Linked DNA regions of Homo sapiens. The protein of the gene in region 3 purifies or fractionates together with the protein of the main gene of each other region. This does not show direct contact. Each region holds a gene or a part of one and is shown on either strand. Other genes may lie near its edges.

Region 1 (10,672 bases), on a different chromosome or scaffold from region 3:
TGGGAATGCTACTAGTAACTGATCCAGAACAGAACTTGGTTTTACACTGTAAAGCCTTATAGCCCAGCAATCATTATACAAGGAAAACAGGGCAAAATTCCAAACGCTTATTCTTATAAGAATAAACTCAGATTTAAAAGTATGTCCGATTCAGAAATTCAAAAAAAGCAAATAAGTTTTAAATGTTATAAATGAAAATCACAAATTATAATATAATCTACAAAAGCAAACTGTAAATTTCTTGAAAACATACATATCCATCTTTTCAAACTAGCAGTACTAAAAGTCAAAGTGATCATCAATTAGGATTTAATAAAATTTTATACTCTATGATATACAAGAAATATCATACAACAGATTATGTATATATCATCATCTAGTTTGAAAGATTAAACACTTAATTTTCTTTAACATTGGGTGTTTTGTTGTGAAAACAAAGAACATCCAAATTTAGAATAAACAAGCCAAATTATCTTTTGGCATTTTAAATAATATTCTGACATGCTGGATTGTATTAAAGTCCCATTCTCTGCCTCCACTGTATTGCCCATCAAGGCTGGGGGTGGGGAAGAAGAGAGGAGTAGACAATACCTGCCTAATGATAATGAATCAATCAAAGGTACCACTTCCAGGTAGAAGTAGCAGCACTATTATTCATATGAAGGTAGTGTATCATAAATATCAACTTCTAGCTTTGGAAGAAAAACAGATACTCAGTGCTTCAAAAATAGCCTGTTCTCTTTCCTTTCCGCAATATAACCTGTTTCTCTTTCCTTTCCACAAAAAACTAATTTTAAAAATAATCTCTAACATTTTTACTAAAGAAACCTGCCTAGATCATTGAAGCTAGTGGTTTCCTAAACCTTTAGTGGGAACAAGGTCATGATGCTCTTTTAATTTAATTTTTCCCCAGAAAAGTATAAATTTTCATTTAATTTCTCCCCAGAAAAGTATAAATATACAGAGTTCACAGACCCTTGGAAGACCATTTATGCTCACGCTAACAGATTCAGGTTAAGAGTCAGAGAGATGAAGTAGAAAATTTCCCAAGGTCCCTCCAACCCTCTTCCATAATTCTCTCTCTGACTCATAAGAACCAACTAAATCATTCATAACCAAACCAAACAATATACTTTCTTGCATGACCAACCCATTTAAAAAAAAAGCAGCTGACAGTATCTATATAGCAATATCCACCAGAAAATAAATTGTACTGGCAGCATTTTAAAATACAGCATGTGACTAGTAATATCAATGAATATTATAGTTGATTATAGCTTAGAGAATGTTTTCACATACAACACCAAATAATCCTCAATTCTGGTAAAATAGAAGTACGTATTATTTTTATCCCCCTTCCACAGCTAAGGAAAGAGGTTTAGAAAATTACTTGCCATGCTCACACAGCCAATAAGTGGAGATCTGGGATTCTAATAGAGAATTGTGTAGTACCAGAAGTGAGCTCAGAACAATATTATAGTCTGGTGCTTCCATAAAAGCTCCTCAAAACAGAGAAAACAGAATTTTTAAAAATAGACTAATGGGTGACATTTTTATTGCAGACATATCTTGACATGAGTAAACAAAAATTAATTTATTTAAAATGCTCAACTCCCTCTTGTTTCTTTGGCTAATATAAACCATTTTGTTCAGAAAAAAAAAAAAGACATAGTCAAGTGAATTTTAGCGACTGAAAACAACATTTTGTTATTTTATGAAACATTTATCCTCCCTCATCTCTTGCTTTTTTTGGGGGTGGGGGGAAATAGGGTCTCACTCTGTCACCCAGGCTGGAGTGCAGTGATGCAATCATGGCTCACTGCAGCCTTGACCTCCCTGGACTCAGGTGATCCTCCCACCTCAGTCTCCCGAGTAGCTGGGACCACAGGTGCACACCACCACATCTGGGTAATTTTTGTTCGTTTGTTTGTTTTTTTGTAGACACAGGGTTTCGCCGTGTTGTTCAGGCTGGTCTGGAACTCCTGGGATCAAGCAATTGGCCTGCTTTGGCTTCTGAAAGTGCTAGGATTACAAGCATGAGCCACCGAGCCTGGCCTCTTTTTTTTTTTTTTTTTTGGAATATAGAGAAAGGTCTCACTTTGTTGCCCAGGATGGTCTCAAACTCCTGGGCTCAAGCAATCCTCCTGCCTTGACCTCCCAAATTGCAGTTACAGGTGTGAGCTACCATGTGGGGCCCTTTAGTTCTTAATATACAAAAATAAATGTGACTCTTGGGAATTCCAATATAAGTAACCAAAAATTTAAACATTCAATTTATAAAACACAAAAACTATCTGAAATTAATGTTTAAGATGTCTGCAATAGTCTCTTTAATCTTTTTAAAATGACAATATCCATTTCAGTTCTCTACAACTCTCAAAAGTTCTTGATAAAAACAAAAGGGTTATTTGTCCAAACCCACAGAATGTTTAACACCAAGAATGAATCCTAACTGTGGATGTGATAACATGTCAATGTAGGTTCATCAATTGTAATATACGTACCACTCTGATGAGAGATTTTGGCTCTGTAGGGGTAGGCGATACATGGGAAATCTCTATACCTTCCACTCAGTTTTGTTGTGAACTTACAACTGCTCTAAAAAAGAAAATTCATTTTTCAAAATAGCAGGTGGGATCAAAATTTACCCAACTTTTTTTTTTTTTTTAGATGGAGTCTCGTTCTATTGCCAGGCTGGAGTGCAGCTGCGTGATCTCAGCTCACTTCCACCTCCCAGGTTCAAGTGATTCTCGTGTCTCTGGGACTACAGGCATGCGCCACCATGCCCAGCTAATTTTTTTGTATTTTTAGTAGAGATGGGGTTTCACCATGTTGGCCAGGATGGTCTTGATCTCCTGACCTCTTGATCCGCCCGCCTCGGCCTCCCAAAGTGTTGGGATTACAGGCGTGAGCCACCGCGCCCGGCCCTAACTTTCTTCTTAATGAATGAAGAAATACTGTTTTTAAAAAATAACCCTCACTGAATGTGAACTGAGTTTCTTGTCAAAAAATGTGCAATTATTACAGAATATATCATCTTAACCAATTATCAGTAATCTTATCAAATGCTAAAAGAATTGGCAGCTTTAAAAATTAAAATGATGAAGCTAAGTGCTCATATGTAGTTGAATAGAGTATCCTTAGACTTTTTTTTTCTTTTTTTGAGATGGAGTCTCACTCTGTCGCCCAGGCTGGAGCGCAGTGGCATGATCTCGGTTCACTGCAACCTCCGCCTCCCGGGTTCAAGCCATTCTCCTGTCTTAGCCTCTCGAGTAGCTGAGACTACAGGCATGTGCCACCACGCTCAGCTAATTTTTGTTATTTTTAGTAGAGATGGGGTTTCACCATGTTGGCCAGACTGGTCTCGAAAATCCTGACCTCAAGTGATCCCCCCGCCTCAATCTCCCAAAGTGCTGGGATTACAGGCGTGAGCCACTGCACCCGGCCCCTGAGACACCTCTTTTTATATTTAGGCTTACGCAATTTTGGTATCTTGAAAGCAATTTTTTTAAAAAGTGACGAAATAAATAAAGTGACTAAAAGTTTGAAGTTTGAACTGGGTCAGTTTGACAAATTAAGAAGGGTGCCAGGAGGAAGTCTGAGGAAAAGCAGCAGCTTAATGCCACCGCCATCTCCAAGCAGCGTTCCAGGCGCCAGCACTGTTAGCAGCAGTCCTCTGCGTACCCAAGAGTACCGCAGGGCCAGAACACGAGAAAGATGCGCGAAGAGGATTTCCTTCTAGAGAGAGAATAAAGAACACCAAGAGTCCAACAATTACCATCTTGTATAGGAGAAAAACAATGCAAAGGAAAAAACGTGCAACCAGCAGATAAAATACTTATGTCAACCCAGGTTCTAAGGACCTTTTCCCAAAGTATCCCTCTAAACTGGTAACATTAGCTTAGGGCAGAGTCAAGAAGAAAGTTATGCCATTAACACAGATGAAAATACTGAACGTTTTCTATGAAAAGTCACCCGATTAAACACTGCCAAGAGGGAAAAACAGTGCAAGTCCAGTAAAGCACGAGACACGTAGAAAATTCAAGCTATGTAGCCAAATCGCTCTCTCTGAAGAAAACAGCAAGCCAACTGAACCCAGCACGGAGTGGAAGGCGTAAAGAGCTGTCATCGTGGCGGTAACAACTCCACCGGGCGGCTGAGCGTCTAGAAAGAGGCTGCGGTTCCTGGTTCCACATCAGGAGGCACTCTCCACAAGGTCTACACCGCCGCTCCCGGGAAGGCACCTCCAGGGCGGCCAGCAAGCCCCCCGAGTGGGGACAGGCAGTGCCTTCCTCGCCTCGTCCCCGCGCGGCGTGGCCCGGAGGTGGCCCACTCGCCCCGCCCCCGCAGGCCGCGGCTCCAGGGGGCGTCCGGCCGCCCTCCCGGGGCCCCGAACCCGCGCCAGCCGCACCGCGCCTGCCCTCTTCCTGGACCCCGCGAAGCACCTGCCTGGGCCCCTCTTCGAAAGACTGGGAGGAAGGAGTCAAGGAGCTGCCGGGGAGGCTGACAGAGCCAGAGGCTGGAGCTCCCCTACGGGAGCCGGGAGCATAACCCTGCTCCTCCCGCCAATGGGGGCGACAAAAGCCGTGGAAGGTTGCTCAGGGGCTGGATCTCCTGCTGTCCGGGCCCCAAGCCCTCTCAGCTGTGGAGTTTCGGTTGGTGCACGAGGGCTCGAATTTCCTCCGCACACCGGAGACCCAAGACGGGACGGTGTTGCGACTTGGGGGCTGGGGTGAGGGAGGGCTCGGCGCGAGCGGACGGCACCGCACAAAGGAAGAGGGGACTGAGGGGAGACGAGGGGACTGAGGGGAGACGAGCGTCCCGTTACCTCGATCCTCGACCCTGTTCTTCCTGATGTCGCTAAGGTTGCAGCCACGTTACCACGCTCCCAGAGCCCCGGCCGCCCTCAGCGGAACCTCACCAACCCCGCGCGAGCACCCGGCGGACGCGCGCTCTCCTGCGCGGCCCCGCGGAGCCCCGGCGGGCGCTTGGCGTCCTCTCGCCTCAGCCCCCGCGAGCCGCGGCCTCTGGGGGCGGGGCGGGCTGGGCGGGGCTGCGCACGGCACTCTGGGAAGTGTGGTTCTCGGGACCTCCTCCCCGAGGCCACCCCCACGGCCTCGCCCCCGCGGCTCCCTAGTGGGCGGCCGGGTCTCAGGGACTGGGCAGTGTTGCCCGGCCTGGTGAAGGCGGACCAGGGCGTGGCGGAGGTCCCCATAACAAATCTTGAAATAAAACACTGCCTAAATACCTTTGAGCTTATCCATGCTTCACTTCTGCGGCGGTACAAAATTTAGTTTCTTTGTATGTCCATCAAATCCCCTTCTGCGGTTGTGAGTGTTCCTGGGATTTATGTCTTTGAAAAAAGAAGGGGAAAAAAAGGTTTGCATTTATTCCTGTGTCACTTTCACCACGTGCTCTACAAAGGATATACAAAACAACTGTGTTTATAAATACACACCCACAGTTTGTAAACCTAAGGAAGCAGTTGATTGACCTGAGAGCTCGCTGCTAAAAAGCAGTGCAAGTGGCCATGCGCGGTGGCTCACGCCTGTAATCCCAGCACTTTGGGAGGCTGAGGCGGGCGCATCACGAGGTCAGGAGTCGAGACCATCCTGGCCAACATGGTGAAACTCCGTCTGTACTAAAAATACAAAAATTAGCTGGGCGTGGTTGTGCGTGCCACCAATCCCAGCTATTCGCAAGGCTGAGGCAGGAGAATTGCTTGAACCCGGGAGTCGGAGGTTGCAGTGAGCTGAGATTGTGCCATTGCACTCCAGCCTGGCGACAGAGCAAGACTCCGTCTAAAAAAAAAAAAAAAAAAAAAAAAAGCAATGCAAGTAAAAGTGCTGTTGAAATGAATTAATTTTTCTATAATGTCAATAAAGTGGAATGTGTGAGGCGGGAGATCAAGAGACAGCAAAAAAACAAAATTTTTTTTAAAGAAAGATATTCCCCTAAATGTGTCTTTTGCCAGACTAACCTCAAACTTTCACAATCCTAGGAGTCTATTTCAGAATAAATTTAATCCTAGGACCTTTATTAATATTAACACATATGAACATTAGCACATTGATTTTAATAGAAATGAACATATATATATCTGTATATATATATGCATCTTCTATAAAAACCCCAAAGCAACTATTTGAATTTGAAATTTTATTTCTAGAAAAAAAATCACATTTTTTACATTGAAATATAAATAATTCTTAATATTTCAAAATATTCCTCTTTAGAGCATTAGTATTTTGCACATTTAATGCAAATACCTTTAGAAAAATAGAGTAAGATGAGTTTTAAAGAAGTATGCAGTGAAGAAAAGTCATAAAATGTGTCTGGAACGTGATGTAAAAATTGTTGGGACTCAGAAATCGATACCCCAAAATATGGTGCTTTGCCGCGCTGAACTGAGGAAGCAGCTTCAAGGTGTCTCTTACCTTCCCCATTACCCCTCCTGCCTCTCAATTCTTTGTCTCTCCCAAAGCACCAAATGATGTCGTTCTCTGAATTTCCCTTATCTGCCTAGAAACTAGACCTGCCAAAGAGGAACATATTTGCCTTACCTGATTTTTCATTTACTTAACTCATATTGGAGGAAGAAAGACTGAAGTCTGTCAACACTCTTGGACAGACTTTTGTCACAAACTATTGTCTGCTGTATGGGCTCAACACACTTTTTCCCAGGCCATTGTATGTTCCCCATTTTCCCCTAAAAGTCCTTTACTATACCTTAAGTTGCCACATTTCCCCAATCTCCCTTTCCCCCATAAAGAAGAGTATATAAACGTCTCTACCCCATTGAGTCATTGGGTAATCATTCTCCTGAAATCTCCCTGTGTTATGCACATTAAAATAAATTTTGTATGTCTTTTTTCCTATTAGTCTGCCATTTGACAGTTGATTTTTCAGTGAACCTTCCAAGGGAAAAGGGAAAGCTTCCCTGTATTCCCTTTATTAAACATAAAACACAATATGTATTTTATTTATTTATTTATTTTATTTTATTTTTTTGAGACGGAGTTTTGCTCTTGTCGCCCAGGCTGGAGTGCAGTGGCACAATCTCAGCTCACTGCAACCTCCACCTCCCAGGTTCAAGTGATTCTCCTGCCTCAGCCTCTGCAATAGTTGGGATTACAGGTGTCTGCCACCACGCCCGGCTAATTTTTGCATTTTTAGTAGAGACAGGGTTTTACCATGTTGGCCAGGCTGGTCTCGAACACCTGACCTCAAGTGATCCACTCGCCTCAGCCTCCCAAAGTGCTGGGATTACAGGCATGAGCCACCACGCCCGGCCTACAATATGTATTTAGTAAGACCATGTTAATAGAAATTTTGTTTTTTATAGCCTAAGCTTTTATTTTATTTTATTTATTTTATTTTAGAGACAGAGTCTCACTCTGTTGCCTAGGCTAGAGTGCAGTGAGTAGCACAATCATGGCTCACTGTAATCTTGATTTCCCCGGCTCAGGTGATTCTCCCACCTCCCGAGTAGCTGGAATTACAGGCCCACACCACCACACCTGGCTAATTTTTTTGTTTGTTTTGTTTTGTTTTGTTTTGTTTTGTAGAGATGGGGTTTCTCCATGTTGCCCAGGCTGGTTGTCAAACTCCTGGTCACAAGGGATCTGCCTTTCTTGGCCTCCCAAAGTGCTGGGATTACAGGTGTAAGCCACCATTCCTGGCCACTTTTCTTGTAATAAGGTGCACAGTAACTCCTAAAAATGCTTATAAAAAAGAGCACAACTGCTCTTTTTCTTCTGCTAATTGACATATACACAATAAACTATTTGTAGTTACTAACAAATCAAAGAAATATACACAATATTTCAATATTATTATCATCTATTTATCGAAGAACATTTTTTGAGCACCAGACACTGAGCTAGGAACTGGGAAATACGCAGTAGACAAAATTGAATAGTCCCTGCTCTCATGGAGACTTAGGATCTAGACTCGGAGACAGAGAATTAAACAGTGAATAATGAAAAGGTATGCATGGGGTGGCCAGGGGTTTGGGGAGCACCTAAGATACACCTAATCTAGAGCCTTTTATTGGGGCAGAGGAGTCTGGCAAAAATTCTGAAAATTAAATGAAATTTTTAAACCAAATAGCTATAAACTGGGGCAAAAAAAATCTTTCCCTAAAAAGTGATATATCTGTAACAATGCTCTCAAATAATTACTTAAAAATATATACAGTATCTTACAAAATAAGACATACCTCAACTAAAACAAAACACACATTTCCTAAATCGGACGAAATGTCTTCTTAGTTTTTACCCATTCCTCCCTAGCTCCATTTGAGAATAAGCAAGACTAGCCTATAATAAGTAAGGATCTAAGAAATTCCTTCCCTTCCCTCAAAGTCCGATAAATTAAAACTGGAAAGGATCTGATAGCTGTTTGTTCATTTTATGATTGTACTTTAGTCAGAAAAAAATTGCAATATTTTAACCCCAATCAACATTTGCATTTTTTTTTTTTAAATTTGAGATGGAGTCTCGCCTTGTTACCCAGGCTGGAGTGCAATGGCACGATCTTGGCTTACTGCAACCTCCGTCTCCCAGGTTCAAGTGATTCTCCTGCCTCAGCCTCCTGAGTAGCTGGGTTTCGGCCTCCCAAAGTGCTGGGATTACAAGCATGAGCCACCGCGCCGGCCAACATTTGCATTTTAAGTCTTTATCTTTAATCCTGGGATAAAAGGCTTTATAACCATCAAAAGAATTTCAGATGTGGGCTGGATATGGTGGCTCATTCCCTGGATGACAGAGCCAGACAATTTTTCTTTCTCTTAAAGGAGTCGGGGAGCAGGGAAAGAATTTCAGATGTGGCTTGCCGAGGGATTTGGAAAGATTAATGAAGAAGGTTATTTTATCTTCATTTGCTAGGGAGGCAAAGCTTGCAACCAGAGAGCAGGTCCCAGAAGAGTTGCTAAGGTTCTTTGTCTATGGAAACGTACTTAAAGAGCCTGAACACCGCCAGCAAGACCACTATCTTCCTGTCCAGGTCAGGGTTACTGGCTTGCAGTTACATTTCATCCCAATCCTTTGACTCCTATCCTGTCACCCTCCTACAAAACCAGCCTTTACTGTGGCACTTCAGCTTCCCTCAACAATCATTTCCCGCCTTTTATCCTAAGACACACATGTGGATGGCTATGTTTTCTGACCTTAGGCTGGTGGCTCAACTTGTGCTGTTTTAATAAATTAATGACAGTTCTTCCATCCACTACCATGCAATCAGCCTGACATAGGTATCTCTAAACCTTTGCTGACCATTTTCTGATATATTTCTCTGATATATATTGTTGTTTTGTTTTTGTTTTTATTTTGTTAAAGAGATGGATGGGGTGGAGTTTGGTGGGGTGCGGGGATGGGGGGATTTTGCTATGTTGCCACGGCTGGTCTTGAACTCCTGGCCTCGAGGGATCCTCCTGCCTTAGCTTCCCGCCTTAGCCTTCGGAGTGGCTGGGATTACAAGGCTCAAGTCACAGCACCCAGCATCCCTGAAATATTTAAAGTTCCCAATTTTTCTGTGGGTCTTTGTAATTGCTGTTCCTTCTACCCCTTTGCCTGGTGAACTCTTTCTAATCATCTAGTATTAACTTAGAAAACTTTTTAATTAGGAAACCTTTCTTGGTTACAGTCCCCCCTCTCCAGTTTTGGGTTACTGCCTCCTATATATGCTCATCTTACAACTTATTTTTGCCCCTAAAGTAGCACTTAGTGAGCATTTTAAGAAGTTGTCTATATCTTTCATTTGTCTGAAATCTCCTTAAATAGAAAATAACAGCATAGTACTTGATGTATAGATGCTTAATAAATACTTGGACTATAAATGGATGCATATCAACTTTGCTCAGTAAACAACCATTCGGTAACTACTTCCTGCCAAGGGCCAGGCAGTAAATATTTTAGGGTTTGGGGCCATAAGGTCTCTGTTGCTTCCTAAAGGACAATAGTCAAGTCTCACTGGTGGCTCCAAAATATCTATATAAGACAGAATTTGAGTTAAAACTTGGAATGAAAGGAGTAGGGGTGCAGCTCTGGGTTAGAGGACATTACTTGAAGATATCTTTACAGGCACACAGTTATTGTTTCCACTGAATATCTATTTTAGGTAGTTTGGGGGTGGGTCTGTGGGTGAAGCTAAAACAGAAAGCATCATCCTTGCTATGACCACTGCTAGTTCTGTTGGTGCTCTAAATCATTTCTTTTGAAAATTACTAGTGCTGGTGACTTTTGAAATGCGGGTGTTGTTGTTTTTTTGTTTTGTTTTCATTTTTAGCATTTTATTTTTATTACTCCATCATACCCAAGTCTAATCAGTTTCCATTTCCCATGAACCTGCCTAGATAGGGTTGAATTCTCAGGCTGAATATGTGGGGGAACTGTGGAATTCTCTCCGGAGCAATATGAGAAATGACAGAATGAGAGCAATTTGCCTCCATCCCTACCACATTCAAGAACTGTGACTTTAGTTACCAGAAAAAAACACATTTAGAGAAACTTTGATTTTCAGTAACTATTTTTGAAACATGTGCCACATACTTCTGAGCAAAATTGTATCCATATGTATGGTAGAAATTGGCACAGTGAAACAAATGTAATTGTGTTTCCATTGCAATTTGTATTCCAAATGTACGATGTCTGTGAAAAGTACTTCTTTCATT
Region 2 (9,759 bases), on a different chromosome or scaffold from region 3:
ATAAGAGTTACCTGTGTTGTGAACACCACAAAGCCATGATCGCTGGCCTTGCCCTGCTGAGAAACCCAGAGCTACTCCTAGGTGAGAGAGATGCCACTGCCTTCCACAGAAGGGAGCATAAAGATTACAGACCTAAACAATTGGTGTCACTTGCATTGTAGTTGAAGAACAGCAATTACAAGCTGACAATGTATCTTTCTTCATCTCAACCATGTTATAAGTTAATGAGCATTCTAATTAACTGTTGCCTCAAACTCAACCTGTTATATTGAAATTGTATTGAAATATGTTAGAGTCTAAGTGGTATTTTTTCTGTTCATTTCTTTTTAAAATTAAGGTATATCATGTATTCAATGAGATATGTAAAAATACACAGATTTTAATTGTTCAGCTTTTCTGTAATGCATTATTTGAACAAAAGATGCAATTCTATCTTGAATTTCTACTTTCTGAAAAGATTCATATTATAGTTAATGCAGTCATAGCCTTATCGCTAATAGCAGGTTTGGATCTGACTGCATTAGTGAAATTGTTCATGTTTTGTCTGTGATTGTAACCGTTTTCACCTGAAGTCCCTGAATGTGCCTTCTTGGAATACCCTATACTTTTGTCCTATCTTAGTGTTGATGTATGTCACTAGAATCTCAGTTCTTAGATTTAATTCTCAGGGTCTGTCTCCTTCGGGTGACTTTTGTTGTCTTCCTTTGATCCCCCTGTGGTGGCTGTGCTCTGTGCTTAGGAGTAGGAGTTGGGCCTTTGTTTTCCTGTGATTTGTGGAACTTGAATGGCTTACCCTTACTTGGTGAGGGTGTCTGAGAAGACGGTGTGGCCTTTTGAGTCAAGGGCAAGGGACATTGCACCTCTGCTGCCTTGTAATCATGAGCAAGATTGTTTGGCCACTCTTCTTCCCTTTCCTAGAGAGGGTCTAATAATTCTTATAGTGAAGAAGTCTTTTTTTTTGAGACAGGGATTTACTCTTGCCCAGGCTGGAGTGCAGTGGTATGATCGCAGCTTACTGCAGCCTTGACCTCCTTAGGCTCCCACGTCAGCTTACCGTGTAGCTGGTACCACAGGTGTGTGTCACCATGCCCAGTTAATTTTTCTACTTTCTATAGACAGGATTTTGCCATGTTGCCCAGGCTGGTCTCGAACTCCTGAGCTCAAGTAATCTGCCCACCTCGGCCTCCCAAAGTGCTGGGATTACAGGTGTGAGCCACTGCCCCTGGCCACTTTGAGATCTTTAAGAGACAATAATAATAACACACTAGTTCATCTTCTGGATCTAGTCATCATGAATCCAGGATTCAGTTATCAGATGTCAAATTCACTCCTAGATTTCTGAAATGAGACAGGGAGACCTCTAAATCTTGTATCCCCTGAATGGAGACAGTGAGCTGACTTTCCCTTTTGCCTTCCCTGAGGCTGGTACAGAATTTTCCAGTGAACAGGTGGCAATGTGATGCTCTATTCTTTTCTTACAGAGATCCCACTGGCATTGTTGGTGGTAGGCCTGGGCGGGGGCAGCCTCCCCCTCTTTGTCCACGATCATTTTCCAAAGTCCTGCATTGATGCTGTGGAGATCGATCCCTCCATGTTGGAAGTGGCCACCCAGTGGTTTGGCTTCTCCCAGAGTGACCGAATGAAGGTCCACATTGCAGATGGCCTGGACTATATCGCCAGCTTGGCAGGAGGAGGAGAAGGTACTGCTCTTGGAGCATTTGAAGGGGTGTTGAGGGATGATTGATGCGACATTGTCAGGCCCGCAAGGGCCTCTACAGTTTATCTCTAAGAGAGTGGCATGAGTATCGTTCCAGTCTTCAGCCTGTTCATTTGTTGATATACTTATTCACTAGAGTACCAGCTATATGCTTAGCACTGTGTTAGGTGTGAATGTAAAGCAATAAGTAAAACAGGCCATTCCTGCCCTTATGGTGCTAACAGACCAGTGGGCTTTTTTCTGACCTGTAACCTTGTCATTTCCTCACCATCTTAAGAAACCTGAAGTCTAACTGGGCAAAGAAACAGAGAAGAAAAGGTGGAATGTGTGTTGGGAGGTATTTTTGTAAATATTTCAACTGGAGGTAAAGCCAGAAATAGAGCAAAACAGTATTCATGTAAGATCAGTGGTATACAACCTCAGGGTCTGACATTTGGTAATGTATGGAGACAATTTTTCATTGTCACAAATCGGGGTGGGGGATGTTGCTACTGACATCTAAACGGTAGAGGTCTAGGATGCTAGTAAACATCTTACAATGTTCAGGACGGGCACTGATGACAGAATTATCTGGCCCAGAATTTCCACAGTGCTCAGGTGGAGAAACCTTGATGCAGATGGTACTCTGTGGGAATTTTGATAGGCCTTCTGCAACTAGAATTAAGGTTCCATTTGCTCTAGTAATTTGCATCCCAGATTTAGGACAAAAACCATAAGCATAATAATTTTCTGTAAAATACTAGGGACAGTAACTCTGCTATTATACAGATAGGCTGCTGGTGAGTTTAGTACTTTCTGGAGCTCGAGTCCTTCGGGGAGAAGGCAGTTAGGTTGGTTCAGTTCTGTTCAGGACTGCTGGTCTGCTCATTCCATAACAGATACTCTGGTCTCACTAGATTAGAATATTTTCCAGTAAGGGTGTGGCAAACTAGGAGGCCTGGGACAAGTATTGAACAGATGCTATCTTAATTTTAATTGCAAACTGAATTGAATTGTAACAGTTTCGTAGGTTCCCTCTCTGAGGCTAGGGTTAGTTTAGGTGCCCAAGCCCAGATAGCTAATACGGTGAAGTATTTACAACAGTGCCATGCACATGGTAAGTACTTAATCCATGATGTTACTGCTGTTGTTATCTATAGATCAGTTTTCAATGGCTCTGCCCATCTTCTGTAACACCAAAATGTTTCAGATTACTGGAGGGCTCAAGGCTGCAAATGCAGGCTATTGTTTTCCTTGGACTTTGATGAGCCAACATGTTCTCTTTGTAAGAAACCAAAATCAGATCTGTGCTATGAACAATGATAAGCATGCAGCAGTCCTAATTAAATACTTATTAATTATTGAATAATTATGACCACAGTCTCAAAATTTTCTAAAAACCTGTCAGTGGCATTGCAGACCTACCCCTTATAAAAACAATTTAACATTATAGTAAGGAGCAGATCCATTTCTTCATCAGTTCTTTCTCACCCATTTAGCAAAATCATTTCTTTCTTGAGTCAGCTCTTGTTCATGGAACTGCAAAGATAACACTAACTGAAATTTCAGAACATTTTCTCCTATGAGGCAAAATGTGCTGTTTTCAGAGTTAAAAGTTACCATTTGCTGGGTCAGCCCTTAAAGGCTTAGTCAGCTGCTTTGTCTAGATCAGTGGTTCTCAACTCTGACTGTATTTAGAATTACCTGGAAAGCTCAAGAAAAATACCAGAGGCTTCCCATCTCTCCTCCCATCTGCCCCCTACTACCCCAGGATATTTTATTCTGTTGGTTGGCGTGTAGTACACATTAGAAGCTTCCCAAGGTGATTGTAATGTTCTGCCACAGTCAAAAGCCACTGGTGTTGATAGACTCTTAACCGAGAAATATTCATGCAAAGGGGACCCCAGTAATGTTTTTGCCTTTGGAAGGTGCTTTTAAATGTGGAAGAAGGTTCCATCTTTACTATGGGACACTCTGAACCCTGATGACAAAGACTCCCCTGGGCCATGACATCAGTGCCCTTACAGGCAAACCACATCCTCTGTGTCATCCTTCTAACTTAGTCACCATGCCCACCACTGGTAAAGAGGAGGTATAGTGTTGGAATGTAAATGGTATTATTTTATCCAGCAAAGACAAGGACTTGTTTCCTTCTTTTTCCCAGCACGGCCTTGCTACGATGTCATAATGTTTGATGTTGACAGTAAGGACCCAACACTGGGAATGAGTTGTCCGCCCCCAGCATTTGTGGAGCAATCTTTTCTACAGAAGGTTAAAAGCATCTTGACTCCTGAAGGTATGGAGAACAAAAGGTGGGAGAGGGAGGAGAGAAGGGACCATTAACAAAAATTATCTTTTTAATGAAAAATGCACAGAAGTGCGAGCTCGATCAATTTTTCCAAATTTAATACACCCATTTACTAGCACTAGACACAGAAAATTTCCAGCTTGCCAGAAAGTCGTATCTCTTATCCCCTTTCAGTAACTTGTCCTCGCAAGAGTAATCACTGTCTTAACATTTGTCCACCCAGCTTAATTTTGCCTGTTCTTGTTCTTTATATAAATGGAATCATATGGAATGTTGGAATGTTCCCTTTTTTTTTTTTGAGACAGGGTTTTGCTTTGTTTCCCAGGCTGGAGTGCAGTGGCCTGATCATGGCTCACTGTAGCCTCAAACTCCTGGTCTCAAGGAATCCTCCCACCTCAGTCACCTGAGTAGCTGGGACTACAGGTGGATGCCACCATGCCTGGCTAATTTTTTTATTTTTATTTTTTGTAGAGATAGGATCTCAACATGTTGCCCAGGCTGGTCTCAAACTCCTAGCCTCAAGCGATCCTCCTACCTTGGCCTCCCAAAGTGCTGGGATTACAGGCATGAGCCACTGAACTTGGCTGAATGTACTCTTTAAGTGTCCATTTTCTTTCACTCAACATGATGTTTGTGAGACTCATTCACAGTGTTGTGTTTACATGGCTTATTTTTATTGCTGTGTTATATCATGTAACTTAACACAATTCGCTTATCCATTCTACTGTTCGTATTTGGTTTGTTTCCTGTGTGGGTCTATTATAAGTGGTGCTGCCATTAACATTCTAGTATATGCCTTTTGATGAATTATGTTTTCAGATCTCTTGGGTATATACACAGGGTTGTAATTGCTGGATCATAGGTTATGGGTATGTTTTTGGCTTTTGTAGATGCTACCACACAGTTTTACAAAGTGGTTGTAGCAGTTCACACTCCCACCAGCATGGTGATGCTAGCTACTACATGATGCTTCCTACACGTGCTCTACTAGGCAGTGTGTTATTTAATCTTCATAGCAGTCCACTTTTTGGATGAGGAAACTGAGGTTGAAGATTTGCCAAGGTGACGCAAGGTAACAGTTGGGGCTCAAAGTCAGTGCCTTGTCACCTCAAAACTGGAGCCTTTAATCCCTATGTTAACAACCCTCTAGGTATTTTTGATTTGGTGTAAGGCACTGTGGTAACTGGCTTGATTTGGAATCTTAATTGTCAGAAGTCAAGATAACCTCGGCCCTGTCACTGGTTAATACTCTATGGTGTGTATGCCAAGAATGTAATATCCCTGTGGAGTTGGTAAATTTTACTTTCGTAGGGAATCACTTTCTATTGATTGATTGAGACAAAGTCTCATTCCGTCACCCAGGCTGGATTTTGGCTCACTGCAACCTCTGCCTCCTGGGTTCAAGAGATTCTCCTGCCTCAGCCCCACTAGCAGCTCCTGCCTCAGCCTCCCTAGCAGCTGGGATTACAGGCGTCCACCACCATGCCCAGCTAATTTTTATATTTTTAGTAGAGCCGGGGTTTCACCATTTTGGCCAGGCTGGTCTCAAACTCCTGACTTCGAGTGATCCGCCTGCCTCAGCCTCCCAAAGTGATGGGATCATAGACATGAGCCACCGTGCCCAGCTGGGAATCACTTCTTTCTCAAAGCTATTCTTTGAGAAGCTATTTGGGAAACTGAGGCTTGGAGAATGGTAAAATAACATGTGAGCAGCACAGAAGAGCAAGAAATAAGGCTGGAGTTTGTTTATGGCTCACATGCTCCCCATGCTTTTCTCCATCTGCCTTTCTATGCTGTGTATTCTCTGCAAACTCATCACCACCGTGTGTTTTAGTCCACCAGTCTCCCTGGGACAGGAATTGGTATTTTCCTCAAAGCCGATCCTTGTCTTTCATATGTCTCCTGATGTGAGGTCATTCTGACTTTTCTTCCTACCCTATAGGTGTTTTTATTCTCAACCTTGTGTGCCGAGACTTGGGGCTAAAAGACTCAGTGCTGGCTGGGCTCAAGGCAGTGTTCCCCCTCCTATATGTCCGGCGAATTGAGGGTGAAGTGAATGAGATCCTGTTCTGTCAGCTGCACCCTGAGCAAAAACTTGCCACACCAGAGCTCCTAGAAACAGCCCAGGCTTTGGAGCGGACCCTGAGGAAGCCTGGGAGGGGTTGGGATGACACGTATGTCTTGTCAGATATGCTCAAGACGGTGAAAATTGTGTGACTGCTTAGGCCAAGCAGCCCTCCTGCCTAGACTGACCTTGGACTCCCAGCCTGCCAGAGAATGAAGAAATACAACGCACAGTACTTTTGAAGCTTCGTATTTTTCTTGGTTTCACACTCAGCTACATGTGACCTCCAGCTTGGTGAGGTTGCCTGAAGATTAGGGAAAATAAAAATGTCCTTCCCATCTTGTCCTCTTCAGTACCACTTGGGTTGGTTTGTCTTTGCTTCCTACACCACGTCCTTGAGTGGAGTTCCCTGCTGAAGCCCCTAGCACACACTGCATGCCTTAACAAGTGTGTGCAAGCCCCTCAGAACTCAAGACATCCAAATTTTATTGCGTCTCTACTTATACTGGTTTGCTTTTGATTTATTCCTCTATTAGTTCTATAGGAGTGATCTCAAGTGAGATAGCAGAGCAAGATGCCAAAAGACCATAAATAGAGTAAGGTTTCTATAGATGTGAGACAGATTTGAGAGAGCATTTACTCTGTCTCCCTGTGGATGAAACTGCTGCTGAAATGGTTCCAATTTTTAGGAATCTGCTTACCCACTTCATTATTTGACAGCTTTCCTTGGTGACCCAAACCTTGTAGCCTAAGCCATTTGTCTTTTTCTCAGTGGAGGGAGTGTATGGACCTGGCCCCATGGCTTTGCATGTTAGAGACCTGGCAGACTAAAGTCTCTAGTGTTTGTTTGCTCACATTTGCTGAGTGACAGCTATGTGCCAGACTGCATAAAGGGTGGTGGCAGAAGTGAAAATGTTTAAGAATGACCAAAAACATTAGTAATGAAAGTTAATGTGTTCCAGGCATTCTTCTAAGTGGTTTACATGCACTGTCTCATTTAATCTGAGATAAAGGATACTTAAGCCCAAACTATATCTAAACCCAAATCTCACTTGGCTGGAAACATCAATCTTAACCATTTATTCAGAACCATTAAACCAATGATTCCAAGACTGGCTTGAATTTTGTCTTTCCTAATTATACCGAGGTTGACTTAATGAGCAGTGCCATGGAAAATAGGCATTGTCACCATTCACCACCTGGCTCTTCTTTCCACAGGCCCTTTAAAAATGGACCCTGACCTTTCAGTTGAAGCATACAGATGCTCTTCAGCCTACGATGGGGTTATATCCTGATAAATCCATCATAAGTAGAAAATGCATTTAATACCCTGATAACCCATTGTAAACTTGAAAAATTGTAAGTCAGAGACTGTCTGTATTTCAGTTAGGTTGTCATCCTTAGAAAGTAGTGTCAGTCTGTTAAGGAGAGGAGGGAGTGCAGAGAAGTGTTTTTAGATCTTACCCATTAGAAATACTTGGTTCTCTTTCTTTAGGAGGGGATCTTCCCCTGGAACCCCGTAACGGGAAGATTATCCCTCATGTCAGGTCTGTGTACCCCAGAGGACCTTACTTGGCAAGTCCTTTCTTTTTTCTTCCTTGTTTTTGAGACAAGGTCTCTGTCACCCAGGCTGGAGTGCATTGGCACCATCACGGCTCACCGCAGCCTTGACCTTTTGGGCTCAGATGATCCTCCCAACTCTCAGCCTTCCAGGTAGCTGGGACTACAGCATGTACCACCATACCTGGCTCATTTTTTGTAGAGACATCCACCTGCCTTGGCCTCCCAAAGTGTTGAGATTACAGGCATGAGCCACTGTGCCTGGCCACTCTATTTTTTTTTTTTCTCTTGAGCTTGTGCAGTGTCAGGATGGGTTATGGAGGCCCAGGGTCTGAGTCAGAGGAGCTCATCTGCCTGTCCTTGGTCAGATCACCCTCATGCTGTGCAGAGTTTGGAGCAGCACATTTGGGTGGCATGGCCAAGCTCTAGGCGTTATCAGAATAAGGTCTCAGTTAAATCTTAGGGGCAATGGTCTACAGAGGCACGAATTTACATGTCGCTTCCCACATTTGGAGGTGGGAAGAGACACTCATGGGTGATGATTATCAAGACTTAAGTATAAAAGAAGAAGGAAATTGGTTATGTGCTGAAGGCTGGAGAAAGACCAAGGGACAGAAGTGAGGCAGTTTTCGGCTTAATTTCCTACAAATGAAATTTGTACCAACGAAGACCAGTGTGTTCACCAGAACACTTGGTGGCTGCAGCCTGCTTACTCAAACCCTAGTCTGACTCCCCTCTGGAGCTTGCTGGATTGTGAGGAAAGTGGTGTGTGTACAGACAGCCATTGGCCTGAATCCCATCTTTTCCACTGGAGAGCTTTTCACTTTTGCCTTAATGACAAGCAAATGGTTCCTTATGGGAATTTTGCCTAACTTTAGGGGTGAGCGCTCTAGAGGAGGGGGGAGGGTTAGAAGCTTCAATGCCTACCAGACCAAGCAAGTAACAAATATGTGGAGTGAGTGAGCCAGGTATAAAACAAAAAGGCTAGGATGAGACCTGTGGCAAACCAGAGAATAAATATCCCCTCTAAAGGCAGCGGCTGTCCCAGCTGAGCTGTCTTGCAGGAGCACTGTCTTAGCATAGCTAGGTCTTTAAGAGAAGCCAGAAATCTCGTGCGTGTGTGCGTGTGTGTGTGTGTGTGTGTGTGTGTGTGTTGACATTAAAATGTTGGCCAATCAGTATACATTTTCAAGTTATAATCTATTTTGCATAGAGAGATTATAGGGGAGATAGCCTATGGAATTCCTGAGAATCTGGCATGCACCCAGCTTCTGAGTACAAAACAAGGAGCAAGCTGATAGCAATGAGTTACAAAAGTCTGGAAAAGTCTTATCTATGACCTCAATTTTCTTTAATGGCTACAGCTGAGTGGGGATGGTCCCATCATCCTTGGGAGAGTGTACAATTTAGCTTCCCAGGACTATCAGAGAACTGAATGAGAATAAATCACATGACAGTTTGTGCCCTCGCCCCTCCCCCCATCCTAAAAAAGTTCTGTGACAATGTAAAATTGGTAAGCCTGCCTATTGCCCTTCTCTGCCTTTTTGCCCTTGTCCCTCACCAATTTTTCAGTGTGTGCCTCCAGTCTTCTGTCATGGCTGCCTGCTAACTGGGCCTCTTCTCTAAGTCTGTCTTCTTATGGATTGGGTAGACCAGTAGTTATTTTTTTTTTTTTTTTGAGACAGGGTCTCACTCTGTTGTCCAGACTGGAGTGAAGTGGTATGATTTTGGCTCACTGCCACCTCTGCCTCCCAGGCTCAAGCAGTCCTCTTGCCTCAGCCTCCTGAGTAGCTGGGACTATAGGCGCACACCACCATGCCCAGCTCATTTTTGTGTTATTGGTAGTGACAGGGTTTCACCATGTTGTCCAGGCTGGTCTCGAACTGCTGGGCTCAAGCAATCTGCCTGCCTTGGCCTCCCAAAGTGCTAGGATTACAGATATGAGCCACAGTGCCTGGCAGAACCAGCAGTTATTCTCAGCTGCACATTGGAGTCATTGGATATGGTAAGCAGAATAATGTTCTCCCAAAGATGTCCATGTCCTAATCCTTGCAACCTATGAATGTTATGTTACACTACACAACAAAGGGAAATTAATGTAGCAGATGGATTTGATGTTGCTAATGAGCT
Region 3 (11,144 bases):
GTGGAAACAGGGAAGGAAAGGTGGAAGAAACTATACTTGCAAGGGCTCAAAGTTGTAGGACAGCAGGTCCGTATGGAGACAGAAGGCCAGCGTGGCCAGGCCACGGGGCAGGATCAGAGGACAGAAACAGGCTGAAGTGGCCACCTGGTGTGGGGCAAGGAACATGGGCCTGATTCTCTAAGCAACAGGAACAAACAACAACAACATTGAAACTCCAGGCTGCCTGGGAAGTAATAGTTTTGGGGCGATGATTCTGGCAGCCTGAAGTTTGGAATGAGAGATGGAGGCAGGGAGGAAGTGAGGCAGGCTCTGTGGTCAGTAGAGGTGGGGAGGGAAGATGAGCAAAGGACAAGTTAGTTTTACTTTTAGAAAGAAGGTTGGTGGCCGGGCGCGGTGGCTTACGCCTGTAATCCCAGCACTTTGGGAGGCCGAGGCGGGCGGATCACCTGAGGTCAGGAGTTCAAGAACTGCCTGCCTAACATGGCAAAATCCCGTCTCTACTAAAAATACAAAAATTAGCCGGGCATGGTGGTGTGCGCCTGTAATCCCAGCTACTTGGGAGGCTGAGGCAGGAGAATCGCTTGAACCTGGGAGGTGGAGTTTGCAGTGAGCCAAGATCGCACCATTGCACTCCAGCCTGGGTAACAAGAGTGAAACTCCATCTCAAAAACAAACAAACAAACAAACAAAACAAAGAAGGTTGAATGGGACATAATGATTTCCTGGCTCTGGGATATGAAGGGGGAGAACAGGAGAGAAGAGAACTCCCAGGTGATGAGGGAGGAGTGGGTTTGGTGGAATGCTGAAGAGCTCAGCCTGGACTTTCCGAGTGGACATGCACATGAGAAGATCCCCAAACCACTCACCGAGGTGATGGTACCCATAATGGGGTCTTCATCATCCATTTTCTCTGGTCTCCCAGCTGCTTGCTTCCTGCGGGCTTTCACTCTAAGGAAAGAAACCAGCACAGTGCAGCTGGGACCACCCAGGCACGGGTTAGCGGGTTGTCCCATCCCATGCTAAGATGGTGAAAATGACAATGAAGCCATCCAGGCCCCGGAACTAAACTCGGAGACCTTCCTGACTTCGGAGTGAGGGCTCCATCCTCCTGGATAACCAGGGATTTGGTCAGGGTGGCCATGGACTGAATTTCCATCATATAGACCCCCTCTTACACACAAAACCATGGCAGGAATGGTCATAGCAGTGTTATGCATCATAGCCAAGAAGCAGAGGCAACCCAAGTACCCGTCAACAGCTGAACCCACAAATCAAATGCGTTCCATTTATATAATGGAATATTATTTGAAAACAAAAAGGAATGAAGTATCGATGCATGCTACAACATAGATGAATCTTGAAAACATTAGGCCGAGTGAAAGAAGCCAGCCACAAAGGACCACATATCGCGTGATTCCATTCACACAAAGTACAACTGCAACTTCAGGACAGACAAATCCACAGAGACATGGAATAGGTTAGGGCTGGGGGAAAGAAGCAGGAGTGATAGCTAAGGGGTGCAAGGTTTCTTTATGTCTTCGTTTTTCACTTTAGGCTGATGAAAATGTTCTAAAATTGATTTTGGTGACAGATGCATAACTCTGTCAATATACTTAAAGCCATTGACTCGTACACTTTCAGTGGATGAATTGTACAAAACATGTATCTCAATAAAGCTATTAGAAAAGAAAAAAAGAAAGAAGACCTCTCTGGATCTACTCAGTTCTGCTTTTTGTTTTGTTTTGTTTTTCTTTTAAGACAGGGTCTCTCACTCTGAGGCCCAGGATGGAGTGCATTGGCACAATCCTGGCTCACTGCAGCCTCAACCTCCATGATCAAGTGATCCTCCTGCCTCAGACTCCTGAGCATCTGGAACCACAAGCACACATCACCACCTCTGGCCTTAGCTCTGTGTTTCTGAGATTCAGTCTCTCCTACTCCCTACAAACACCACCCTGTACCTTCCCTGGGACCAAGACTTACATTAAAAAGAAGATGAGGCACAGACAGATACAGAGCAGGGCCATGACACCAGCACCACCAAGGGCTGCAGGAACCACTCCTGTCCCGAGGTTCGATCTCCCTGCAGAAAAGAGGGGCGTGCAATAACTCACTCCCAGGACTCAGACTCTTGTCCTCCCACCTGCTGGGCAACTTGCTCCAGGGCCCTGCTCAGACAGGAGATGAAGAACCCTGTCTCCCCACCACCAGTCCAGCCTCTCTCTCCCACCATCCATCACTCTGGGATCCATGCCCCTCCCCTCAGGCCCCTGCCCTCTGCAATACGCCCCCTGACCTTGCAGCAGCAGGACAGAGCCGCTCTGGGACCCATAGATGTTCCAGGCCTTGCAGCTGACTTTGAGGTCGGAGCTGAGCCCCCCGTGGAGGATCAGGGAGCTGTTGGCCCAGGGCCCAGCTGAGCTGGAGTTGACCTTGAATGAGCCCTGGCTGCTGTTCCCCTCCAGCGGCTTCTCCTCAAGCCGCCAGCACAGGGAGGGGGCCGGCCGGGCTCGAAAGGAGCATCTGCAGTGCAGACCCTCAGCCTCCCAGGAGCAGGAGGGGCCCAGCAACTGTGGGAGGGCTGTGGGGAGGGAGGACAGAACTCAGCAGGGGGCCTCTTCCTTCTTTAATACCATGCAGTTCCTGCTCCAGCTGCCCCCACACTCACAGTAAACTGAGAGATTCAGAAAAATTTGCAGGAAGCCCAGCGGGTGCTGAGCGCGGCAGGTGAAGCCTCCTTCTTCTGCAGACCTTACTCGACGAAGCTCCAAGATCCCGGTATTGGAGATGGGGGTGGCGTTCAGGGCAGGGGAGCCCTGGAACCAGCTCAGGTGTGCAGGGGGGTTGCTGGGAGCATCACAGAGCAGCCGCAGAGCCTGGCCCTCCAGGACCGGAAGGTATGAGGTGTTTTGCAGGATCTCTAGGGCTTTGGGGAGAGAAGGGTGGGGAAAGAGAGATGGGGCCAGGGAGGCTGACAGTCCCTATCCTTCCCTCCTTCCCAGGATCCAGATGACATCTCCCTCTCCTCCCCTGGCCTATGCTGGCTTGATTGCATCCTGGTTCAAAGGCTGGGCCTTTGCACACTCAGGAAACTGACCAAAAGTGTCTGAGTCTCATGTCTCCAGAGGAGGCTCAATATCTCACTGGTACATGCCTGGACTGTGGTGGAGAGAGGACAGAGAGCCCCCGGTGGCGTTGGGAAATACAGTCCGCTAATGTGACAGGAAATAAGACTGAGGATGCAGGAGTGGAAGGGTGAGAGAAGAACCACAGAGCTGGGCTGACTGAGATGAGAGGGGCATGGAGTGGTCCTTAGTGACTGTGGAAAGAACCAGACCACAGGAGGGATGGGAGATGGGTGGGGTCTAAAGTCTGTTCACTGCTTTGAGCAGAGTGCATGAGTGTGCACCTGTGTGCGTGTGTGTGTGCGTGTGCGGGTGTACGTACATGTGTGCGTGTGTGGGTGTATCTGCATATGTGTGTGTGGTGTATGTGCATGTGTGCGTGTGTATGTGCATGTGCCTGTGTGGTGTATGTGTGTGTGTGCATATGTGTGTGGTGTGTGTGCATGTGTGCCTGTGTGCATGTGTGTGTGTATGTGCGTGTGTGTGTGGTGTATTGCATGTGTATGTGTGTGGTGTATATGCATGTGTGTGTGTGCGTGTGTGTGTGCGTGTGTGCATGTGTGCGTGTGTATGTGCGTGTGTGCATATGTGCCTGCACATGGGGCTCACAGAAGGTGGAAGCCAGAAGGCAGTAATTCTCATTCTTGCTCTTCCCAAATCTGATTGCATTCAAGCTCTGATTCTCTACCTCTGCTCAGAGACAGACCCAGAGGCAGGTCCCAGCTTCAGAGAGGAGGTCTTTCCTACCTATGCCGTTCCTGAAGATGGTGATGGTCTGTGGAGCATCTGGGATAAAAAGATATAAACTTGGCTTCAGCAGTGAGGAGTGAGATGGGCATGGGCCCAGGAGGTACCCAAAGAGGAGCCACAGAAACCCACCAAGCGGGGAAGGCTGTCCTGTCTCACTCCCCGCAGATCCCAAGGCTTAGATCCACACACAAGGTTTCTCAAGTTATTGTTTTGTTTCTCTCTGTCTTCCTTACACACACACACACACACACACACACACACACACCCCTCACTCCCACTGCCCTTGAGGACTCAGCTGTGTCCCCAGCACCACTCACAGGAGACATTGAGCTGGACAGTTCTCTCCGTGGTCACCTGAGCTCCTTGGCGTTTCATCTGACAGGTGAGGTTGGTGCCATGGTCCTCGGGCCTGGGGGTGAGGGTGAGCTCCGAGGAGCGGGTGGTCTCGGGGTCCAGGGGGCTGAGGGCATTCCCCGTCCAGGAGAATGTGAGAGGTGGTCCCGCTTCACAGGATCCTGGAAGGCTGCAGCTCAGCCTTGTGGGGCGGCCGGACTCCAGAGGCTCCAGAAAGTGGATGTCGGGTTTCTCTATCAGGGCTGAGGAGGAGACAGGGAGATACCTGGGCCCCAGGGGCTTGAGGACGTAAGGTGTGACCCCGAGAGTGGCCAGGCCTCAGGCCCCGACCTGCCCCAAGTCCTACACCTCCTCCAGCCGCCCCTGCCCAACTCCTGTCCCTGTTCTCATACGGGGGTCTCCACGTCCCAGGGTCCTCTCCTGGGGTCCCTGCCATACCTGTCACCTCCAAGTTCAGCTTATTCTGTTGGTAGCTATATTTTACATCCCTTCCTCTCTCCACGCGGAAGAAATAGCTTCCCGTGTCCTCCATTCTGGCATCTCCGATGCTCAGGGAGCAGTTCTTCTTCTGGACATCCCCAAGGAGGCGGAATCGGCCCTGGGTCTCTGGCTTCACTCTTCTGTCTGGGTTGTTTGTGGCCACAACCTCAGCGTAGTATGGGATCTCCCCGTCCCGGAACCAGTAGACGTAGAGTGGGGGAGAGGAATACCAGGATCTCCAGGGGTAAGAGAAGGAGCAGGGCACAAGGACGCACAGGCCCTCCTGCACCGTCACCGACTTCTGCACTTGCAGCTCGTACACTGGCTTCTCCTGCAGGGACCCTGGGGGGACACAGAAGCTCAGCTGCAGCTCCAGCCCCCCTTCTCACCCCTGTGCCTGTCCCTCCTCCCTCAGCTCACTCACCCCCCCACAGCAGGGGCAGCAGCAGCAGGGGCAGCATGTCTCCATCCGCCAGGGCCCCAGCCCAGTCCCAGGTCCGGCTGTCAGGGAAGGAAATGCTCCAAATGTCCAAACGTGGGGTGGGGCTGAGAAAGCCCCGACAGGAAGCCGGAGGGTGAGTGAGAGCTGTGGACGCGCACAGAAGGGGAACTTGGGCATCACGTGCTGTTGGGGTGAGGCGGGGGCTGGGAAGCCATTCTGCTCCCACCCCGACTGGACGCCGCAGGTGAAGATACTGAGGCCCCCAGACGATGTGAGGCTTGTCCAGCTGAGGATCTGGAGGTGATCACCCCTCAAATGATGTTTCAGTCATGAGTGAGATCCTCAGGGGGCTGAATGCAGAAAGAAAAGAGAAACAAGGGCTTGTCCTGGTGATGAGGTGAGATGTCAGAACCACCCTCCACCTAAAAACCATGAAACATTCTGGAAATACATAATTTTAAATTTGATTTTAAATGTTCAAAGTGACCAGGCATGGTAGCTCATGCCTGTAATCCCAGCACTTCGGGAGGCTGAGGTGGGAGGGTTGTTTGAGCCCAGGAGTCTGAGACCAGCCTGGGCAACATAGCAAGTCACCATCTCTACAAAAAATAAAAACTATTAGCTGGTGTGGTGGCACACCTATAGTCTCAGCTCCTCCGGGGCACTGAAATAGGAGAATTCCTTGAGCCCAGGAGTTTGAGGTTGCTGTGAGCCGTGATCGCACTACGGCATTCCAGCCTGGGCAACAGAGTGAAACCCTGCCTTAAAAAAAAAAAAAAAAAAGTTCAAAAGGGCTGAAAAAAAATTTTTTTGACCCAAATTTCGTGGAGGGTCAGAGCATGAGAGAGCTGAAGCACTCTTATGTTAAGAAGATTCTTGGGACACAGCACAGTCCACTTTGGGTCTTGATGGACCTGAGGGTCTTGTGGGACGGCAGTGAAACACAAGCCCTGCTAAAGCCTCATCCTATTAAGGAGCTACAGAAGCAAATTTGCCACTGTGAGGCTGATGAAGCTCAATCTTCAATGCCCTCCCTTGCAGGATCCACTTTTCAGATGCCCAGGAGGGGCCCACGCAATGTGTGGAAATAACCTGCCTTGTTACTGCTCTTTTATGAAAGAAATTTCATAATAGTTTCCCAAAATTTAACAATATATTAAAAATTTTTCACATTCCGATTAATGTGTTGTGAGAATAAAGACAGTTTCTTAAACTATCAATGATCAAAACAAACGTCAACCACCCATGCCAGAAGAAATACCGACTTCTCTTTCTATTCTATCTATAAAAATTGTATTATAAAATTATTCTCCAATATTGGCCGGGTACAGTGGCTCACATCTGTAATCCCAAGCACTTTGGGAGGAGGAGGCGGGTGGACCACCTGAGATCAGGAGTTCGAGACCAGCCTGGCCAACATGGAGAAACCTCCTCTCTACTAAAAGTACAAAAATTTAGCCAGGCATAGTGGCGCACACCTATAGTCCCAGCTACTCCAGAGGCTGAGGCAGGAGAATCACTTGAACCCAGGAGGCAGAGGTTGCAGTGAGCCAAGATCACGGTACTGCACTCCAGCCTGGGTGACCAAGTGAGACTCTGTCTCAAAAAGAAAAAAATTATCACCATTATGAAGGCAATCAAAGAAAATCAGTCAAAAATATAGGGAAAAAGTATGCAGGTGTAGCAGACAGGTAGACTATACTATTAACAAACATAGTATGCCATTTTTCTGAGTTGTCTCATATTTTGACATTTTAGATTTTGTGATTTGATGTGTTTTCTCAGTCCAAAAATCATCCTATGTGTGCCAAATTTTGTATTTTTGTATTTTTTTTTCTAAAGAGTCACAAAGACTCTCTTCTTAACCAAACTTATGAAAGCTCCTCTGAACCCTTTTTTCAACTAGGCTTTGTCCTTGGGACTGCCTTGTCCAGCTGTAGCAAGAATCCTGCTAAGTTGGTTTTGCAAGACTCTTGATATCTGATCGCCTTCACTATCTGATCAAATTCCCTAGCCCTCACCCTTGGTATCTGATCATGCTGGCCTGCTTTCAGCAAGAATCCTGTTAAGTCAGTTTAGAAAGAATCCCGGTATCTTCAGTGTCTCCTCTTAGTAGTTTTCCGTCCACTAACACACACGGCCAGCCTCCCTCACCTGCTGCACTATGCTTCTTGCCCATAAACCCCCCTGGTCTTTGCTGTATTCCGAGTTGAGCCTGACCTATCTCCATTATTGCACTAGTCTTTTTTTTTTTTTAATTGACTTCTGTTTTTTTCTTCTGAGACGGGGTCTCACTGTGTTGTCCCAGCTGGAGTACAGTGGTGCAACCTTAGCTCACTGCAACCTCCCCCTCCCAGGTACAAGCGATTCTCCTATCTCAGCTTCCTGAGTAGCTGGGAGTACAGGTGCATGCCACCATGCCCAGCTTATTTTTGTATTTTTAGTAAAGATGGGGGTTTCACCATGTTGGCCAGGCTGGTCTCGAATGCCTGACCTCAGGTCATTTCCCTGCCTTGCCTCCCAAAGTGTTGGGATTACAGGCATGAGCCACTGTGCCTGGCCTGCACTAGTCTTGATACCTGTCTCAGTCATCCTGAATAGTCAATGTTAACAGGTGTCAGAATAATTTTTTCTTTTTTCTTTTTCTTATTGCAAATTCTGAACTTTATTCCTCATTTGAACTGTGAAAGTAATTCATCATACCGGCTAGTAGGATCTAAAGATAAAGACTTGATTATGTAGGAAAATGGTATTTTTATCTTTATATTAAAATCTTAATATTAAATTCCCTCTCCTAAAATACATAGTATGGCTTCTGTTTTCACATCAGCCTTAACTAATTAAATCTCAAGAGATGAATAAGTGAGCATTGGGTGATTTCAAATCCCTTTATGATATAATTCATAGCCAACTAGAAATTCTCTTTAGAGAATTTCCCAAACAAGATAAAGGGTGTCTTCAGCAAACATCATATACCTAATGAAGTAGCTTCAGGTCCTAGCATAATAAGGCAATAAAAATAAGCAAAAGGTACAGCAATTACAATGAAATTTTAACAGAGGTCTTTATCAATGACATGACTGCACATATAGAAAAATCCAGGCTAAGCGTGGTAGCTCACGCCTGTAATCCCAGCACTTTGGGAGGCTGAGGCAGGCGGATCACGAGGTCAGGAGATCAAGACCATCCTGGCTAACATGGTGAAACCCCATCTCTACTAAAAATACAAAAAATTAGCCGGGCGTGGTGGTGGGCGCCTGTAGTCCCAGCTACTCGGGAGGCTGAGGCAGGAGAATGGTGTGAACCTGGGAGGTGGAGCTTGCAGTGAGTGGAGATCACACCACTGCACTCCAGCCTGGGCGACAGAGCGACACTCCATCTCAAAAAAAAAAAAAGAAAAATCCAAAAGTATATACGGATACATTTGAAGCCTTAATAAAATATTTGCAAGACAGCCAGAGATTAATCAAATTACAAAATCAGTTGTCTTTCCACATCACAGTAATAAAAATGGAATTTTATAAAAATGCCATTGACAAAAGCTTCAAAAATTATGATATAATTTATCAATATCAAAAAATATGATATAATTTTTGAATATATGGAATATATCTAACTATTAGAGATGTATCTAACAAAAATATGTATATGTCACCTCTATGGAGGAAATTATAAATCTGTATTCAAGGACATTAAAGATGTAAATAGGCTGGGCGCAGTGGCTCACGCCTGTAATGCCAACACTTTGGGAGGCCGAGGCGTGTGGATCACCTGAGGTCAGGAGTTCGAGACCACCCTGGCCAACCTGGTGAAACCCCATCTCTACTAAAAATACAAAAATTAGCTGGGTGTGGTGGCAGGCACCTGTAGTCCCAGCTACTCAGTAGGCCAAGGCAGGAGAATCACTTGAACCTGAGAGATGGAGGTTGCAGTGAGTCGAGATTGCACTATTGCACTCCAGCCTGGGCGACAGACCAAGACTCCGTCTCAAGAAAATAAATAAATAAAAAATAAATAAATCAAGATGTAAATAAACTGAAAAAGAGGCCATGTTGATGAGTTTGAGAACAATATTGTATGAATGCCAATTTTACCCAACAATCTACAGCATCAAAGGAATATGTCATACAATCTCCCGGGTGATTTTTGTGCAATTTGGTAACTCTATTGTAAAATTTATACTGAAGTAGAAATGTTCAAGTATGGTCAAGGCAACCATGAAGAACAATGAATGGCTTTGCAAGATAAAAAGATGTATCATAACATTACAGAAAATATGACCATTTCAGACGGGGCACAGTGGCTCACATCTGTAATCCCCGCACTTTAGGAGGCCGAGGCAGATGGATCACTTAAGGTCAGGAGTTTGAAAGCAGCCTGACCAACATGGTGAAACCCTGTCTCTACTAAAAAATAACAAAAATTAGCTGGGCATCGTGGCATGTGCCTGTAATCTCAGCTGCTCAGGAGGCTGAGGCACAAGAATTGCTTGAACCCAGGAGGTGGAGGTTGCAGTGAGCTAAGATTGTGCCACTGCATTCCACCCAGGGTGACAGAGTGAGACTGTCTCAAATTTTTAAAAATGTGAGAAAATAGGCCCATTTCAATGGTTCACACCTGTAATACCAGCGCTATGGGAGACCGAGGCAGAAGGATTACTTGAGCCCAGGAATTCAAGACCAGCCTGGGCAACATGGTGACACCCCATCTGTACAAAAAACACAAAAATTAGCTGGGCATGGGTGGCTCATGCCTGTAGTCTCAGCTACTTGAGAGGCTGAGGTGGGAGGATCACTTGAGCCCAGGAGGTGGAGGTTGCAGTGAGCCAAGATTGCAGCACTGCACTCCATCCAAGGTGACAAAGTGACACAGTGAGACCTTGTCTGAAAAAAAAAAGTGACAATTATGTATTGACCAAGTGGAACAAAATTGAGTGCCTGGAAATAGACCTCAACCACAGGAAACATCAAGTGTGATAGAGGAAGTGGCAAATAATAAATTTTTCTTTTTATTTATTTTGGGTTTTTATTTATTTAATTTTTTTTGAGACAGTGTCTCTGTCACCTAGGATGGAGTACAATGGTGTGATCAGGGCTCACCACAGTCTCTATTTCTCTGGGCTCAGGCACTCCTCTCATCTCAGCCTCCCAAATAGCTGGGACTACAGGAATGCACCATTATGCTTGGCTAATTTTTTAATTTTTTGTAGAGACAGGTTCTCACTATGTTGCCCAGGCTGGTCTCAAACTTCTGGGCTCAAGCGGTCCTCCCACCTCAACCTCCCAAAGTGTTGGGATTACAGGCATGAGCCACTGGGCCCGGCCAACTTTTCAAAAAATATCTGTGGGCAAAACTTAATGCAATCAAGTTTGCAGTAAGTTTGCAATGAAATTTGACTCCCAGCTCATGCATAAAAGTCAAGTACAGGTAGCTTGAAGGTCTAAATATGACAAAGAAAACAATAGAGCTGTTAGAAAATAATATAGCAGGAAATCGCCATGAATTTGAGGTAGGTAGGATTTCTGAGCAAAACATAAATAACACTATTTATTTATTTGTTTATTTTTATTATTTATTATTATTTTTTTTGAGACAGAGTCGTGCTCTGTCACCCAGGCTGGAGTGCAGTGGCGTGATTTTGGCTCACTGCAACCTCCGCCTCCCAGGTTCAAGCGATTCTCCTGCCTCAGCCTCCGGAGTAGCTGGGACTACAAGCACACCCCACCACGCCCAGCTAATTTTCGAATTTTTAGTAGAGACGGGGTTTTACCATGTTGGTCAGGATGGTCTCGATCTCCTGACCTCATGATCCACCCACCTTGGCCTCCCAAAGTGCTGGGATTACAGGTGTGAGCCACCACGCCCAGCCAATAACACTATTTATAAAGAGAAAGATTGAAAACTTGACCCCTGGCCCAGACACTGAGCTCTACCTCTCTGAGGTCTTGCCTCCACAGGACCTGCACATCCAAAGGTCTTTTCTCCCCAGGACC

Evidence for each region.
Region 1: the proteins of SIGLEC5 (region 3) and KLHL8 purify together in Homo sapiens (affinity purification with mass spectrometry; 2 studies listed by BioGRID and IntAct, with this or other methods). This does not show direct contact.
Region 2: the proteins of SIGLEC5 (region 3) and METTL13 purify together in Homo sapiens (affinity purification with mass spectrometry; 2 studies listed by BioGRID and IntAct, with this or other methods). This does not show direct contact.

What each region holds. Positions count from the first base shown.
Region 1 is NC_000004.12:87,215,590-87,226,261, forward strand, and holds the start of KLHL8 (kelch-like protein 8), read right to left. Parts: upstream 5,030-10,672; 5' UTR 4,829-5,029; intron 4,680-4,828; exon of another isoform or gene 4,446-4,679; intron 2,599-4,445; exon of another isoform or gene 2,505-2,598; intron 1-2,504. UniProt on the Homo sapiens protein: Substrate-specific adapter of a BCR (BTB-CUL3-RBX1) E3 ubiquitin ligase complex required for The BCR(KLHL8) ubiquitin ligase complex mediates ubiquitination and degradation of RAPSN.
Region 2 is NC_000001.11:171,790,536-171,800,294, forward strand, and holds the end of METTL13 (eEF1A lysine and N-terminal methyltransferase), read left to right. Parts: coding exon 1-81; intron 82-1,481; coding exon 1,482-1,700; intron 1,701-3,860; coding exon 3,861-3,992; intron 3,993-5,946; coding exon 5,947-6,221; 3' UTR 6,222-7,181; downstream 7,182-9,759. UniProt on the Homo sapiens protein: Dual methyltransferase that catalyzes methylation of elongation factor 1-alpha (EEF1A1 and EEF1A2) at two different positions, and is therefore involved in the regulation of mRNA translation.
Region 3 is NC_000019.10:51,625,166-51,636,309, forward strand, and holds the start of SIGLEC5 (sialic acid-binding Ig-like lectin 5 isoform 1 precursor), read right to left. Parts: upstream 5,237-11,144; 5' UTR 5,171-5,236; coding exon 5,134-5,170; intron 5,052-5,133; coding exon 4,668-5,051; intron 4,472-4,667; coding exon 4,193-4,471; intron 3,912-4,192; coding exon 3,873-3,911; intron 2,927-3,872; coding exon 2,669-2,926; intron 2,582-2,668; coding exon 2,297-2,581; intron 2,084-2,296; coding exon 1,984-2,083; intron 949-1,983; coding exon 867-948; intron 1-866. UniProt on the Homo sapiens protein: Putative adhesion molecule that mediates sialic-acid dependent binding to cells. Binds equally to alpha-2,3-linked and alpha-2,6-linked sialic acid. The sialic acid recognition site may be masked by cis interactions with sialic acids on the same cell surface.